Homo sapiens: one gene and its partners. The protein of the gene in region 1 purifies or fractionates together with the protein of each later gene. This does not show direct contact. Each region holds a gene or a part of one and is shown on either strand. Other genes may lie near its edges.

Evidence for each region.
Region 2: the proteins of DDX55 (region 1) and ZC3H4 purify together in Homo sapiens (affinity purification with mass spectrometry; one large-scale study listed by BioGRID and IntAct). This does not show direct contact.
Region 3: the proteins of DDX55 (region 1) and AVEN purify together in Homo sapiens (affinity purification with mass spectrometry; one large-scale study listed by BioGRID and IntAct). This does not show direct contact.
Region 4: the proteins of DDX55 (region 1) and SETD4 fractionate together in Homo sapiens (co-fractionation; one large-scale study listed by BioGRID). This does not show direct contact.

What each region holds. Positions count from the first base shown.
Region 1 is NC_000012.12:123,604,860-123,608,626, reverse strand, and holds part of DDX55 (ATP-dependent RNA helicase DDX55), read right to left. Parts: exon of another isoform or gene 2,697-3,767; coding exon 2,646-2,696; exon of another isoform or gene 2,600-2,645; coding exon of another isoform or gene 2,555-2,599; coding exon 2,468-2,554; intron 1,196-2,467; coding exon 1,104-1,195; intron 1,028-1,103; coding exon 965-1,027; intron 1-964. UniProt on the Homo sapiens protein: Probable ATP-binding RNA helicase. Has ATPase activity and is involved in the maturation of precursor large subunit rRNAs.
Region 2 is NC_000019.10:47,068,678-47,072,444, forward strand, and holds part of ZC3H4 (zinc finger CCCH domain-containing protein 4), read right to left. Parts: coding exon 3,675-3,767; intron 3,445-3,674; coding exon 3,101-3,444; intron 667-3,100; coding exon 415-666; intron 1-414. UniProt on the Homo sapiens protein: RNA-binding protein that suppresses transcription of long non-coding RNAs (lncRNAs). LncRNAs are defined as transcripts more than 200 nucleotides that are not translated into protein.
Region 3 is NC_000015.10:33,868,106-33,871,872, forward strand, and holds part of AVEN (cell death regulator Aven), read right to left. Parts: intron 2,926-3,767; coding exon 2,830-2,925; intron 1-2,829. UniProt on the Homo sapiens protein: Protects against apoptosis mediated by Apaf-1.
Region 4 is NC_000021.9:36,057,628-36,061,932, forward strand, and holds the start of SETD4 (SET domain-containing protein 4), read right to left. Parts: upstream 2,900-4,305; 5' UTR 2,720-2,899; exon of another isoform or gene 2,195-2,719; intron 1,347-2,194; exon of another isoform or gene 1,298-1,346; 5' UTR 1,262-1,297; coding exon 1,189-1,261; intron 1-1,188. UniProt on the Homo sapiens protein: Protein-lysine N-methyltransferase that methylates both histones and non-histone proteins. Via its catalytic activity, regulates many processes, including cell proliferation, cell differentiation, inflammatory response and apoptosis.

The DNA.
Region 1 (3,767 bases):
TGATGATTACCAAAATACCAAGTTTTATATCCCCCCAAAGTCATTTAAGCCCTAGTGAAGAGAACGAAGAGCATGAGAGTAGAAGAGTGCTGCAGGGTAGAAAGACTGAGGGCTGTGGTGAGACGGGATCTGGGTTCTGGGCTATGACCTAGGCAAGGTTGGCAAACTCCAGCTCCCGGACCAAACCTGGGCTGCTGCCTGTCCTTGCCAAGTATTTTATTGGCAGAAAACCACGCCCATTTATTCACATGTTGTCTATCGCTGCCTTCACACTACAACAGCAGTTGAGTAAGTGCGATGGAGACCATATGGTTCACAAAGCCGAAAACATTTACCATCTGCTCCTTTATAAAAAAAAAGCTTACCAACCTCTGACTTACGCAAGTTACTCAACCATTGTAGGTCCCAGGTAACTCACTTGTAAAATGGAAATGTTGACAGAATTAGAGAATCCTATGTAAAGATCACAAACTGGCAGACTCAGGGCCAGATGTGGCTCCCTCAGACTGGCTCACCTACAAGATATGTTTTTCAAATGTGGATTACACGCCAACAGTTAAAAAATCAGGAGATTACACACACAAATCTGGAATTCCATCTTCTTTTTAAAAAATTCAAAACCTGCCACTACTGAGCCGAGTCCTCCCAGGCAACTACCAGCTGGAGCTGAGTATTCAAGGCAGCTGCTGGCCAGTTCCTCACCATCCCCCAGCCCCTGACCACTCATTTATCTTCACGTCGTTCTCTTGACCTCTGTAAGAACCTGAGTTTGTGAAGTTCTCATCAGGGCCTTATGGGAAGGAGCCAGCAAAGCACAATGGGAAGCTGGCCTGGAGAAAACACCTTTTTGCAGGGGGAGGAGGCTGCTGAAAGGGGGACCCACAGTTAGGCTGAGATCACACATCGATTCTTAGGTTCAATGCCAAAAGCAAGCAAAGAAACAAGCAGACACGAGCAAACTCACCCTTGTTGCTTAAACCTCTCAACATCTTCTCCAGGATTCCTGCCTCCGATCCAAAGAATCTGGCTACAACAAGAAAACAGCCTTTGATTAAGTTCGACAAAACAGCCCATGACTAACAGGGACACTGCATCCAATTCACCTGAACTCGGGGAAGTGCTTCGTGAAATGCGACAGGACCTCGTCTATTTGAATGGCCAGCTCTCGAGTGGGGGTGATGATTATGGCTCCAACCTACCCACATGGAAGGAAGGGACACAGTCAGCAGCACAAGGGACTCCCAGAGAGGAACTCATAGGCCCTCCGCCCTCTACCACACAAAGGAAAGTTCCAGAGAAACAGTAGTTCCCAGACTTTCTCAGCAGCATCTCTGAGCACATATCAACTACTTTGAATTACGGTTACTCGTCATCATATACTGCAGTTATGCTCTTTCAAGTCATGAAGAACAGTGAATTAGTCAATGCTGAACCACTGCTCACAGGGGAAACACAGGGTTAGGTTCCTGCCAGTCTTTGGGCATGACATTTTTGTCAACCAATCAATACATAAACCTATTTTATGTCTGTTTGTGCTTAAAAGACTCTATTTAACATATACTATTGATTCATTCTCATTGAACTCGTGGCCAACAGCACATTAACTCATGCCTTAGCTTGTGCTTCTCTAGCACAGGGATTTTCTCTGCACGTCATAACCTTCTTGCACCCAGGAACACTAGACTGCACTACATCACGGGGCCATTTCAAAAACCAAAATCACCAACATAAAGCACAAAAATGTGCAAAATGGCCGGGCGCGGTAGCTCACACCTGTAATCCCAGCACTTTGGGAGGCCGAGGCGGAAGGATCACTTGAGCCCAGGAGTTTAAGACCAGCCTGGGTAACATGTCAAAAAATACAAAAAATGACCCAGACATGATGGTCCACACCTGTAGTCCCAGCTACTTGGAAGGCTGAGGCAGGAGGACAGCTTAAGCCTGGGAGGTGGAGGTTGCAGTGAGATGAGATCACACCACTGCACTCCAGCCTGGGTGACAGAGCAAAACCCTGTCTCAGGGAAAAAAGAAAAAAAAAAAAAAGGTAAAAAACATGGCACTAAATAAATGACGAAAAGGACACTGTTTACACCTGAGCAGTGAAAACAAAGGCAGCTCTGCCCACGCCCATGACCACAGAAGCACCGAGGATCCACTGGGGTGTTCTAAATTTTAACGAGCAGGCAAATTCACAAATACAGAATCCACAAATAATGAGGATTAACTGTCTTTTTTTTTCAAGTTTCATTCATTCATTATTTGTAGAGATGAAGTCTCACTGTGTTGCCCAGGCTGGTCTCAAACTCCTGGACTCCAGTGATCCTCCAGACTCAGTCTCCCAAAGTGCTGGGATTACAGGCGTGAGCCACGGCTTCTGGCCTATTTTTTCACATTTGTAGCCAGCTTCTTAATCCAATGTGAACTCTCTGATGACTAGGTGAAAATAAATCACTTTTGTTGTCCTCACCTGACTCTTTTTTAACTTCTCTTCTCTTCTCAGAAGAATTTCCAGGATGGGGATGACAAAAGCGAGTGTTTTGCCACTACCTGTGACCTGCAAACAGAGAGTTTTGGTTTCCCTTTCTTCCTCAGAGTTCATCTGAGGGAGAACACGAGGACAGGCTGCACATACCCGAGGCACTCACCGCTTCTGCAGCGACATCTTTGTTTCGCATGAACAGAGGGATGGTTGCGGACTAAAGAGAGAGATTGCAAAGCACTGGTTAAAGGATGCCATCAATTCACAGGTGAGACCCGAAGCCCTAGGAACATAATGGGCAGCTAAGGTCACAGTGGGTCCCACCACAAAAGGGGCTCTGAGTAACCAAGTCACCATAGAGAAGTTGAATCAAACGTGGCAACTGTGTCTATGTGGACGGCGTGTGGGGACAGTGAGCTGAGCTGGGAGGTGGGAGTCCTGAATTCTAGCCCTGTCGCTCCTACTTTCCTCTCTGAACCAGGAAGGCGTTGAAGACATTGGGTTTTAGGGTCCCTTCCAGCTCTAGTATCACAGAATCATGATTCAAATAAACCCTCTCATTTTAAGCACTGTAGAGGTTGCCAGACTTTAAAAGAAACCTGGTTTTAGCAATCAAAAAAAACCTCAATTAGATTCAGGCCTTGGCCTGGAGGCTGCTCCCTCCAGGATTCAGCCCTGGTCCCCAGGGCCTGAGCTCACTTAAATCACAGCAGGTGTAATATTATTCTAACTGCCTCTACACAGTGATTGCTATCCCCCTGCTCAACCCCTGAGGGAACATTTGACAATGTAAGGAGACATTTTTGGTTGTCAAAACCCAGGGTGGGCCAGGCGTGGTGGCTCACATCTATAATCACAGCACTTTGGGAGGCCCAGGTGGGTAGATCCCTTAAGGCCAGGAATTCCAGACCAGCCAGGCAACACAGGGAGACTCTGTCTCTACAAAGAAAATTTTTTTAATTATGTGGGTGTGGTGGTGCATGCCTGCAGTCCCAGCTACTCAGGAGGCTAAGGTAAGAGGATCACCTAGGCCCAGGGAGGTCGAGGCTACTGTGAGCTGTGACTGTGCCACTGCACTCCAGCCCGGGTAACAGAGCAAAACCCTGCCTCAATAAATAAATAAATAAATAAAATACAACCAGGGTTGGGAGGTGATGTCCTCTGATGGACAGATTCCAGTGATGTTGTTAAACATCCTACAATGCCCAGGACAGCCCCATAACAAAAAATTTTCCAGCACAAAATGTCAATAGTGCCAACAGTGAGGACCCTGCTTCAGGCCATTGCT
Region 2 (3,767 bases), on another chromosome or scaffold:
CTCGGTGGCTCGTGACTATGATTATTACTGGTTAATTTCAATGACTAGCTCTTGTTTGTTGGCTCCTTGAGAACACGGTAGGAAAACAGGGGCTGTGAGGGTCTCCCTAAAGCCTCCTCTGGCAGGGCACAGGCGGTCAATCCTGTTGGCCACTGTCTCCTCCAGGAACTAGCCCTCCATCCTACTCCATGGGATCAGGGTCTCTCCTGAACCCAACACAGAAAGCCACCCCTGACTGCCAGTTTTCTCAGGGACATGCAGCAGCCCCAGCCCGGCTTCATGGCCCTGGACAGGGGTCCTCCCTAGCCATGGGCTCCTTCCTGACAGGAAACCCAACCTGGAACACCCCACCACCGCCGCTCCCCTGCACAGCGGCCTGGGGCCTGTGCCCCGGCCCCTGGGGCGGACACGTGCCTTCCTCATTCTCCCGGTCCTGCTTGCTGCTCTCAGCCAGCCTCCTCGCTCTCTCCTCCTCCTCCTGCTGCTTCTGCTGGATCCTCAGGTACAGGGCCCTCTGGGCTGAGGGCAGGAAGTCAGGGACACCGGCGCCTGGCTTCGGCCGGCCTGGGGGCCCTCCCTCAGAGAAGCTGTCGGGCTCCAGAGGGTGCTCAGGGAAGAGGTGCTCCCCAGGCTCCCCTGGCAGCTCTTCGTAGTGCCCGTAGTCCTCTGTGGCAGGGAAGAACCGAGGGTTCATGTCGGGAAGGGCCTCCAGGTGCCAACTCCAGCCCCCCTGCCCCTCACTGCAAACCCACACCGATGGCGATGGAGAAGGACGCACAGCCTGCCCCTGCCTGCCCTCCCCAGGTCTCAGGGGAACAGAGCGGCCCATGGGTAGCCCCGCCTACATGAAGAATGAGGTTCACAGAGAGGGTTGAGTGATGCGGGCAAACGCTTATGAGGTGGAAACAGGATGGAACATTGGATGTACGTTTGTAAGACGCAAGGAGAAAGCTTTGAAAAGACACACAGAAACAGTCCCTCTGGAACACAGATTCTGGAGAGGCCAGGGATTTCTGTACTCTTTCCTGTACTTTTAAATTATTTTGGATGGATAGGAGTTGCACGGTTTCTTTCTAACAATCAGTAAGGAAACACCATGCATCTCATAGTGAACTCGACCATGTTCAACACTAAAAGCCAGGAAAAGAGAATGAAACGGGTCAAGTGCTGCTCTGGCCACAGGTCAACAGCAGTTCCAGAGTGCCTCCCTGCCCACTCCACAGCATTAGGGGGTGTCTCAGGAAGCACGGGGCCTCCACCTCCTGCAGCGTGGGCACTGGCACCAGCCACCTCACCCCACACACTCCCCCAGTGCCTGAGCCAAGAGCTGTGGGCAGCAGCACAGGCTGACGTGGGGACGCAGCAGGCGTAGAGGGGAGGGCAGGCTCGGCGACGCCTCCTGCATGTTGCGTGTGTGACACATGTGAGCATGGGAGACATCGAATCACCGAAACGGAGGGGGGGGCGTCTGGAGTCAGTGCTGCCCCACAGAACGCTCTGCAGTGATGGAAATGTTCTAGATCTGCAGGGCAACATGTGGCCGCCTAGATCCTCCTGGGGCAGCTGAGCATTTAAAACGTGGTGTCTAGAAAAGTGCACTTGTAACTTAGCTTACATTAATTTCAACTTCGTCAAGTGAACCTGATGGGCCAGCCTGCTCTATGACACATCCCAGCGCAGAGCTGGGACCCACTCCATGAACCAGACAGCCGAGGGTCCCCCTTCACACACAGTCTGTGCACACACCAGAAACCAATGACCATACATGTTAGAGGGAGGATTTTATGAAATGGGATTATTCTAGAGACACCTACTGCTACCAACGTGACGGACTTCTGGTGCCCCGCCAGCAGAGCTTTTCCCGTGCACCTTTTAGACGCATTTGTTGAAGGGGGAGGAGCTGAGAACCCCAGCACCTACTGTGGCAGCCTGTTTTTCTCGTCTTTCTTTCTAAAGCACCCACTCTCACCCAAGTACCTGCTCTCCCAGGTCCATGCACCACCTAAAGCCAAAGCCCACGTTCACATTTTGATCTCTAGCCTGGGCCTCTCCCAATGCCCCTTAAACCACCCCCTCAAAATTTCCACATGGCCGTCGGAGGGGCAGGCACCCTAGAGTGACTATGCCGCACGTCCAGCGCCCCATCCTCAATGCCGCTCCTGCCCACCTTGCAAAACAAACACGGGGCTCCCACTGCCCCACGGCACCGTGTCCAAACCTCGAAGCCCTGCCTTGCACTCCAGTGGCCGCCCTGCTGCCTCTGCCCAGGGACAGCCCCCAGCAGCTGCCACAGCAGCTCCCCCAGTTCAACACAGCGCCCCCACCCGCTGCCCTCGGAGGTCCCATCATTCCTCACGTTGTGAGTGCCGCTTCACTTCTCAAAGAGACTTTTGTGACTATCCCCACTGAGGCACTGAGCCTTCTGGCCCACCGCCACGGTTCCCCACCTTTTCTTCTAAGAATGGCCAATGCTGAAAGGAGCCAACTCCTCTATCTACACGCTTGCCACCTGCTTGTTTCCACCAAGATGCAACTGAGCGAGGACAGTGGTGGCCTCTCGTGCCTGGCCCTCCTCCAGAGGGCTGCACACCACATCTCCTATGGCTGCAGCAGCGTCATCTAAACCCCTCTGCTCACTGGACATTTGTTACCAATGCAAAAGGAAAAAAAGGCAGGAAAACGGCCGGTAATGGGCACAGAACCCGCAGAGTCCTGGGGTGGACACTGGTTGCTCCAAGCCGAGAACTGCCCGGAAAGAGATGGTTTTGGCCAGGCCACTAACTGAGTCCTGATGGGCCCACCAGCCTCTCAGCCTCACACCCTTGCACACTCGTCCCTCTAACTTCCCATGCTTCCGATTCCAGGCACAGCTTGCAAAATTAAAAAGAAATAACCTATATTGGTAATACACAGAATACTCCTTTCTTCTTCAACAGAATACATCCTATGTCACTGAAAACATTCAACCATTAAATGGGACAGAGATGGAGTCATGCTTTCAAAGAGACTTGGACGAAGGAAGAAAAATCACATCTCCCCAACTCTGCTCCACTGGGTAAAGCCTGCAGCCCCAGGCAGCCACACCTGGAGTCCCGCATACCTGCATCCCCCAGGAGTCCGGGCTCCATCTCCATGCCCTCCTGCTGCTGGTAGAAGTTTTCATAGAAGTTCTGGGCTGGCGGGATAGGGGGCATCATTCCAGAATGTGGGGAGTCTCCAGGGCCGTAGGGCATCATTGGAGGGCCGCCAGGGCCCATGGGTGGGCCAGGATTCATGCCAGGGCCCATCGGCATGTCTGCGTGCATGTCTGCGTGCATGTCAGGGTGCATGTCCGGGTGCATGTCGGGGTGCATGTCAGGATGCATTGGACCGCCCATTGGCCCTGGGGGTCCCATGTTGGGCCCAGGGCCCATTGGCCCTGGGGGTCCACCGGGTCCAGGGAACCTAGAAGAGGGAAAAGGTGCCTGTGACGGAAGCTGCCGAGGAGGGCAGTGGCCACACCCCAGAGGAGAGGCGGAGGGCTGCAGAGCCGAAGGTCATGGGCCCCAGACCAGGACTCCCACAGCTGGGGAGAGAGGCAGGACTCTCCCACAGCCAGGCTTGCCCTAACAAGAGGAGCCTGGCTGGGCCCAGGACAGCGCCCACTGCCTGTCACGGGGGTCCAGGGCACTCACCTCACACCCAGCTTCTCAGCCAGCTGTCCCGTGGGCCGCACCACGATCTCAAACAAGGAGGGGATCTTCTTGTTGTACATGTCCTGCTGCTGC
Region 3 (3,767 bases), on another chromosome or scaffold:
ACTAGCTCAGATTTGGAATGAAAAGATCCATGTCTTCCTAGCCCTGGCCTGAAAACTGCCAGTACCATAGGTCTATTTGGCTTTACACTTAAATCTGTATTAAGACATGAACATCTATAAAAAGTCACCAAGAAGTGGCCAGGCGCAGTGGCTCATGCCTGTAATCCCAGCACTTTGGGAGGCCAAGGTGGGTGGATCATGAGGTCAGGAGATTGAGACCATCCTGGCTAACATGGTGAAACCCTGTCTCTACTAAACAAACAAACAAACAAACAAACAAAAAACAAAAAAATTAGCCAGGAGTGGTGGAGAGTGTCTAGTCCCAGCTACTCGGGAGGCTGAGGCAGGAGAATGGCGTGAACCTGGGAGGCGGAGCTTGCAGTAAGCTGAGATTGTACCACTGCACTCGAGCCTGGGCAACAGAATGAGACTCCGTCTCAAAAAAAAAAAAAAAAAAAAAAAAGTCACCAGGAAGTAATTAGCAAATCAGATCTGTTCATTGTATTTAAGTGCACTAATATAAAGGTGCAGTAACAAATTCACCAAGACTCTCCTTGGTAAAAAATGCCAGACACAAAAGAAAATACACTATTTGATGATTGTATTTGTAAAAAGTTCAAAAGCTACGGTATTAGAAGTTAGGTGAGCGAGTGCCTTTTGGGGAGAGAGTGACGTGGAGTGTGTATGAATGGTGGCTTCTGAGGTGCTGACAATATTCTAAGTCTTTATCCGGATGCTCATTCCATGTATACTTACATGTGCACTTTTCTGAATCGATGTTATACTTTAATAAAAGTTACAAACTCCCCCGGTGATTGTAATACAAGGTTATAATCTAAGGCTGAGAATCACCGCTCTCGAGGGAAGGCTCCAGGGATGAGCAAGGCCTCACAGTGGGCAGGTTCAGAAGTTCAACCTCTACTGGAGGTCCTGACCCCTTATTTTTACATAAACATCCTGAGCAGACATGTAAGACGGTATGGCTTTATATACAAACAGGAATAAATATCCAGCAGAGTCAGTCAGTTGTACAGGGCAAAGCTGGGACATGGTCCTCTATTCTAATCTTAGAGTCATTTAATTGTTCTGGGGTGGGTGTCTGGCCTTGTTTTTGTTTGTTTTTAACTCCCCAGGTGATTCTAATGTGCAAACAAGGTAGAGAATACTGCTCTACAGCATGGGTGGGGGAGAAATGTTTCTAAGTGATTTAGCCAGGATTTCAATGTCACATAATTATTTTATACCTTTAATGCCTGCCACTGACATTACAACCTTCACTTCAAACACTCACAACCACTTCCTCTCTGTCCTGAGTCCTGAATCCTTTATCTCAGCATTTCCCTGGTGAGTTCTGCTAAACATTCCTCATCATATGAGATCAAGCCAAGCACTTCAGAACTTTGAACATCACTGGACATCAGCAGAAGAGCCACTAGTGCTCTCCCAAACACCCCCAAATGTTTCCAAAGAACCCCCAGGGCAATCCCCCATCAGAGGCAAATGTAATTCTTTCTAGTTCTCTACCCTGTCCCTAACTGTCCTCCATCCCTGAACTCTGCCTGCTGTCCCAAATTTTAGACTAGTAAATGCTATACAGCAAATGAATGGGTAACCAATTCATTACTATGCTCAAGCTTAGCATCACATTCACCCACAGAAGGAAGTTGATAATTTCAGTTGCTAGGATTCTACTTAAAATCAGTACGTCCCAAGGTTTCACTTTTTTTTTTTTTTTTGATCGTGCCAGAATGTTGAAGTTCTTCATGGCATAATCTTTGGGCCTCCCCCTCTCTTAGTTCATCAATTATCACTTCATCCTGTTATCTCCTGAATTTGTATTTCTAGCCCTTGATGTAGAACTATAAAGTTCAGCATTCAGTTGACTGTTATTTCCACTTGGATATCTCAGAGGCACAAACTCATAAAGTCCAAAACTCACCCTTCCTGATCCTACCACTGAGTTGCACAATCTACAAAGTCTTGAATTTTTTCTTGACCACTCTCTCCCAATTTCCAATATACCGTCAAATCCTGTTAATTGTACCTTTGAAGTACCTCAGTACAGCCCTCTCCTCTGCCATCTCCACCGTCATTACTGTAGTCCAAGCTACAGTACTACTCACCTGCACCTGTACAACAGCCTCCCCATGTGCCTCCCTCACCTGCTCTGTGCATGTGTATGTGCACATGCAGACTTACCCCCACACATGCACTCCAATCCCACAGTCTTCTCTACTTGGCAGCCCCATCGTTTTTATTAACGCAAAGCTGACTGGGTCTTTCTCGTTTAAATGCCAGCTCAAATGTCCTTATGCTTTAGACCTCAGCTCATCTATCACTGCTTCAGAAAGCCATTCCTAACCACACCACACCAGAAACTGATTTACTCTAAAAGCACACTGTACTTCACAGGATGTATTACAATTTGTATATGTTTGTGTGACTATTTGATTAATATTCATCCTTCCCAATAGATTAAGTTCCAGAAAGGCAGGAACGACATCTGTCTGTTCACCACTGTGTCCCTAGTGCCGAACATAGAGCGTGATGCGTAAATATTTTGAGTAAAATAGCCAGACTTTATATTTTACATTTCACTCAATTCCACTACATTTGATCCTTTAAAATGTTTCAAATATAAAATATAAAAAAGTAACTTCAAAAAATTTTTGGATTCTCCTTTAAACTTTACAAAATGCTACCTTGATATGAAACCCTCACTTTTATAAAGGGAAGCTGACACTGAGACATCCTGCTGAGGGAAGTGTTCCCCTCTTTTTCTCCTCCTGCCCTAATCCACCCGCTTCAAGAGGGCTTCGGGATTTTTACCTGGACCAGTTCGGCAGCAACGTTGAGTCGGAGGCAGAGAGGCAGCTCTTGAAGGGCTCGAACCAATAACTCACTATCCACATAAAATGCTGAATTCTATATATATATATAAAAGAAAATAAAATATCAGGTGATGATTATGACCTTTTGGAAATAAAAGAAGAAACTGTAAATAATCCACTGGAGTTACATTTGGCTAGGAATAAGTCACACCATACATCACACTTATGTGTTAGAGTTTCTGCATCTCCACATTATGATCAGTAAAACCAAAGCTACCTTCTTGAGCCACAGCTCACACTGTCAGAGCAACAACAGGGCAATGATCATCCTCCCATCAAGACTGTCCAGGCTGGGCGCAGTGGCTCATGCCCGTAATCCCAGCACTTCAGGAGGCCGAGGCGGGTGAATCACCTGAGGTTAGGAGTTTGAGACCATCCTAGCCAACATGGTGAAACCCTGTTTCTACTGAAAATACAAAAAATTAACTGGGTATGGTGGCTGATGCCTGTAATCCCAGCTACTCGGGAGGCTGAGGCAGGAGAATCGCTTGAACCTGGGAGGCAGAGGCCGCAGGGAGCCGAGATCGCAACACTGCAAAACAGCCTGAGCAACAAGAGTGAAACTCCATCTCAAAAAAAAAAAGACTGTCCAGTAACCTGGAAACGGTGGAGGCTTTTGCAATGACTGACAAGCTGAAAGAAAAGCAAGCATTTAATGAAATCTAACCTGATCTCTTCTCTAAATTCAGACTGCTGGCCTCAGAAGAGGAAAGGGCTATTTAGGCAGTGAGAAGGGACTGACAGGTGTTGCGAAGGTTTCAAACGAGCTAGTCTCCTCAAAAAAAAAAAAAAAAAGCCACTTTGTAAGAAGGCTTTCTTTTTTGGTCACCAGTTTGCCCCATAAAGGGCTAAAGCTGAAGAAGGCCTTAGATATAA
Region 4 (4,305 bases), on another chromosome or scaffold:
AAGATGATCCCAAAATTCATGTGGAAATGTAAAAAGCCTAGAATAGCCCCAATATCTTTGAAAGATTGATTTTAAAACTTATTATAAAGCTACAGTAATCAAATTAGTGTGATATTGTCAAAACAGACACAAATAGGTCAAAGGAACAACACAGAAAATAGGAAGAGGTCCACACGTAAATTTTTGACAAAGTGCAAAGGCAAATCAGTGGAAGAAGATAGTCTTTTCAATAAATGATGATCAAACAACTGGACCTCCATCAGCAAAAAAAAAAGTGAGCTTATCGATATCTTGTACCATATCCAGTTGGATTTACATAGGACTTTCCAGATGGCCAAGCACTTTTGTATTGAACAAGATACAGTATCTTCTTCAGACAGGGTTACCCTGAATTTGAAGTCATAAATTTACATCCAAACATTGATATCCTACAGATAGCTGAAGGTCAAGACCAGAAAAAGAAAGTTGGGAGTCATCCCCAGAGAAGACAGTTGAAACAATGAGTTAGTTATCTTCACATTCCCACCAGGATCTAAAAGAATACAATGGCACCATTAAAAAAGAGTGTTATTTAAGAAATATTCTCTTTGGGCTGGGCACAGTGGCTCACACCTGTAATCCCAGTGCTTTGGGGAGGCCAAGGCAGGAGGACCACTCGAGCCCAGGAGTTCAAGACCAGCCTGTGCAACATAGACCCTGTCACTACAACAAATTTAAAAAAACATTAGCCGGGTGCAGTGGCATGTACCTGTAGTCCCAGGTACTTGGGAGGCTGAGGCAGGAGGGAGGCTAAGGGAGGAGATCACTTGAGCCTGGGAGATCAAGCCATGATCACGCCACTGCATTCCAATCTGGGTAACAGAATGTACCTTGTCTCCAAAAAAAAAAAAAAAAGAAAGATTCTCTTTGAACACTGTGTGCCTTTGAGAAAAGCTATGTGTTAGGCCGAGCATGCTGGCTCACGCCTGTAGTCCCAGCTACTTGGGAGGCTGAGGCAGGAGAATCGCTTGAACCGGGGAAGCAGAGGTTGCAGTGAGCCAAGATGACACCACTGCACTCCAGCCTGGGTGACAGAGCGAGAATCCGTCTCAGAAAAAAGAAAGAAAGAAAGAAAAGCTACGTATGAACAAACAAGCAATCACAAAAGGATTTCTTTTTTCATTACTGGTACTAAAAGAAAAACCATACCTCCTCTTGATTCAGAACTTCCGCAGAGTTTTCGTCTTCTGATCCGGCTTGTTCTCCCTTTTCCTTTCTGCATGCTAAAACTGTAGTTTCTTTTTTCTGAAATACAGTTCTATTTTTTCAAAAAGGACAAAACTGTAATTTCTGTGGAAATGCTCAATCTAAAATAAAAAACATTTCTTTGATTTACTTTCCAGTTATATGATAATCACTGTTCTTTGTACCTTTAAGTATACAAATGTATGTTTTGGTAAACTGTTTCTCTCAAGTGCTTTTGTACATGAAACGTTTATACTGTGAGCTAAATCATGATCCCTACAGTAACAGAATTCCCATTATATCAGTCCCTCTAAAACAGTTTTATCTTGCAGACCTAGTGACTACAGCTTAATCTACTAAAAATACAAAAAATAGCTAGGCGTGGTGGCACACGCCTGTAATCCCAGCTACTTGGGAGGCTGAGGCAGGAGAATCGCTTGAACCTGGGAGGCGGAGGTTGCAGTGAGCCGAGATCGCGCTACTGCACTCCAGCCTGGGCGACAGAGCGAGGCTCCGTCTCAAAAAAATAAAAAAATAAATACATAAATAAAAATAAAATAATGGCTGGGTACAGTGGCTCACGCCTGTAAAACCAGCACTTTGGGAGCCCGAGGCGGGCTGAGGTCAGGAGTTCAAGACCAGCCTGGCCAACATGGTGAAACCCCGTCTCTACTAAAAATACAAAAATCAGCCGGGCGTGGTGGCAGGCACCTGTAATACCAGCTACTGGGGAGGCTGAGGCAGGAGAATCGCTTGATCTCAGGAGGCGGAAGCTGCAGCTAGACGAGATCACGCCACTGCACTCCAACCTGGGCGACAGAGCGAGACTCTGTCACAAAAAATAAATTAAAAAAATAAAAATAAAAAATAAATCTACTTCTAAAACATACGAGGGCAGAAATGAGCAAGAGACAAGAACTCCAGGCAATATTAATACCGCACTTCCGCAGTATAAGGTTCATTATTTGACCTAACGAAAGTCGGCATGTCCAGCTCCAGAGGCGAACGGCGGCTGGTTCGGTGCGGGTCCCAGCGCTCAGTCCACAGACCGCGCCGGGAAGTGTCCCCAAGACTCCCGGGCCCTCGCGCGAGCTGTCCACCATCACCCTGCTGAGGACCACGTGAAGCCCGGTGACCGCCACAGACACAGGCACCGTCCCCGCCCCCATAGTCCTCAAACTCTAGCCGTGAGGCCGTCCTACGGTCCGACACACACCGCTCCCGCAGCCATAGGCCAGCCAGGCGAGCATCGGACCTCGGGCCTCAGGCTCCTCAGCTTTACGCAGCGCGCCGGAGCAACATGCGCTAAGTGTAGGACTCCACAAGATGAGAGGTTACTGCAGCGCACACGATAATGCCTGCCCTGGAGGGGACCTGCGACCTAAACTCAGTTCTTTTTACGCTGATGAATGAAAGACTAAGGAACGCACCCCGCCGACTCTGCTCCCGTTACCCGGGCAACTGGAGGCCCGACCCGGAAGTCCTACTAGCTCACCTAGGCGCCGGCGGCCGCTTCCAAGATGGAGGCTGCAGTGGGCGGGCCCAAGGCACGTGGAAATACCAAACAGCCCCAGATGAAGGCAAGTTAAAGGAACCGGCCAAAACTGCAGAGGGAGAGGCTGAAGGCTGTCGCGCCTGCCTGGTGTCCTTAAGCAATCCAAGTCCTCAGTCTCCCGGGTCCGCCCCTTCCGCCGCGGGCGGCAGCTTCCGGCTCGCGCATGCGCAGTGTTCGCGGACTCGCCGCCAACGCCCAGTACAGTCGGGGACGAGGTCGGCACACCCACAGCCCCATAACCCCTACGTCGAGTCAGGGGTCAGAAAACCCAGTAACCCGCAGGCGAGCAAGCTGCGCACTGAAAAGCCGGCCTGCGGAGTCTTTCCTTACGAAGTTAAACCACCTAGGGCGCGCGGCCCTGTTCGCCCAGACCTCGGGCTTTCCTGCCAGGCTGGGTTTGCCGGGTCGAGTCACTTTGCTCGCCAATCCCCGCCCCCATTCCACCGTTTCATTCTGGCCCCAGGACCCGCCTCACAGGAAAATTCTAAATAATATATCTAAATACCCCTTCTTCCAATAGCGGGAGCTCGATTTCTGCCCCACCCACCCCCACTTTGATTATGGGCTATGCCTAGTAACTTGATTCCAAAGAGTACAGCCTGGAATGGTGTTGGGGACTACAGTGGAGAAACCTGGCAAACAGTACCTTACCGGGTGGTCAAGGATAACATCAGGAAGAAATCATGCTGATAGCATGTTCCTGTGGTGTCTCTCTCCAAAACCCTTCTATGGAAATCTTCTATGGGGGAAAAAAAATTAGTACTCCTAAACATGTTTTCTGTCATGAAAAACAAGTACAGTTGTCCCTTAGTGTCCGTGGGGGAATGGTTCCAGGACCCTGCGGATACCAGAATTAGAATGCTCAAGTCCCTTGTATACAATGGTGTAAACCTAAGTAACAAAAGAGGCTCCCTAAAAGAAAATGAGATTTATCTGGGAGTAGCATTGCAATGGGAATATGCATGCCATAGTAAACTGTGTGCGTTTTGGGGGAGGTTGAGGCAAGGAGATGTTTTTAAAAGGAAAATGAAGATTATATGAATTGCTTTAAATCAATTATCTTTGGCTAAAAGAATGAATAACAAAGGTAGCATCAGTCCAAAGTTGCTGGACAGATGTCCTTGCAGAAGGATTTTCTGTGTTTAAGATTGGGCCTTTCTGCAAGGTTAGGGTCTTTTGTGACAATTCTTGTTATGAGGCGTAGTGCATGAGAACCCTTCCTTCAAGGCCTTCCCCAGCTGCATTTATCAGGGTTTTGACACAAGTGACTCCATTTTGATTCTGCAACTTTCACAATGGTGTAATATTTGCATATAACCTATGCACATCCTCCCATATACTTTAAATCATCTCTAGATTACTTATAACATCTAATACAATGTAAATACTATGTAAATAGTGAAGGGGTGGCCTGCCGCTCCACACCTGTGGGTGTTTCTCATCGGGTGGGATGAGAGACTGAGAAAAAAAAGAGACACAGAGGCAAAGTATAGAGAAAGAAAAGTGGGCCCAGTGGACCGGCGCTC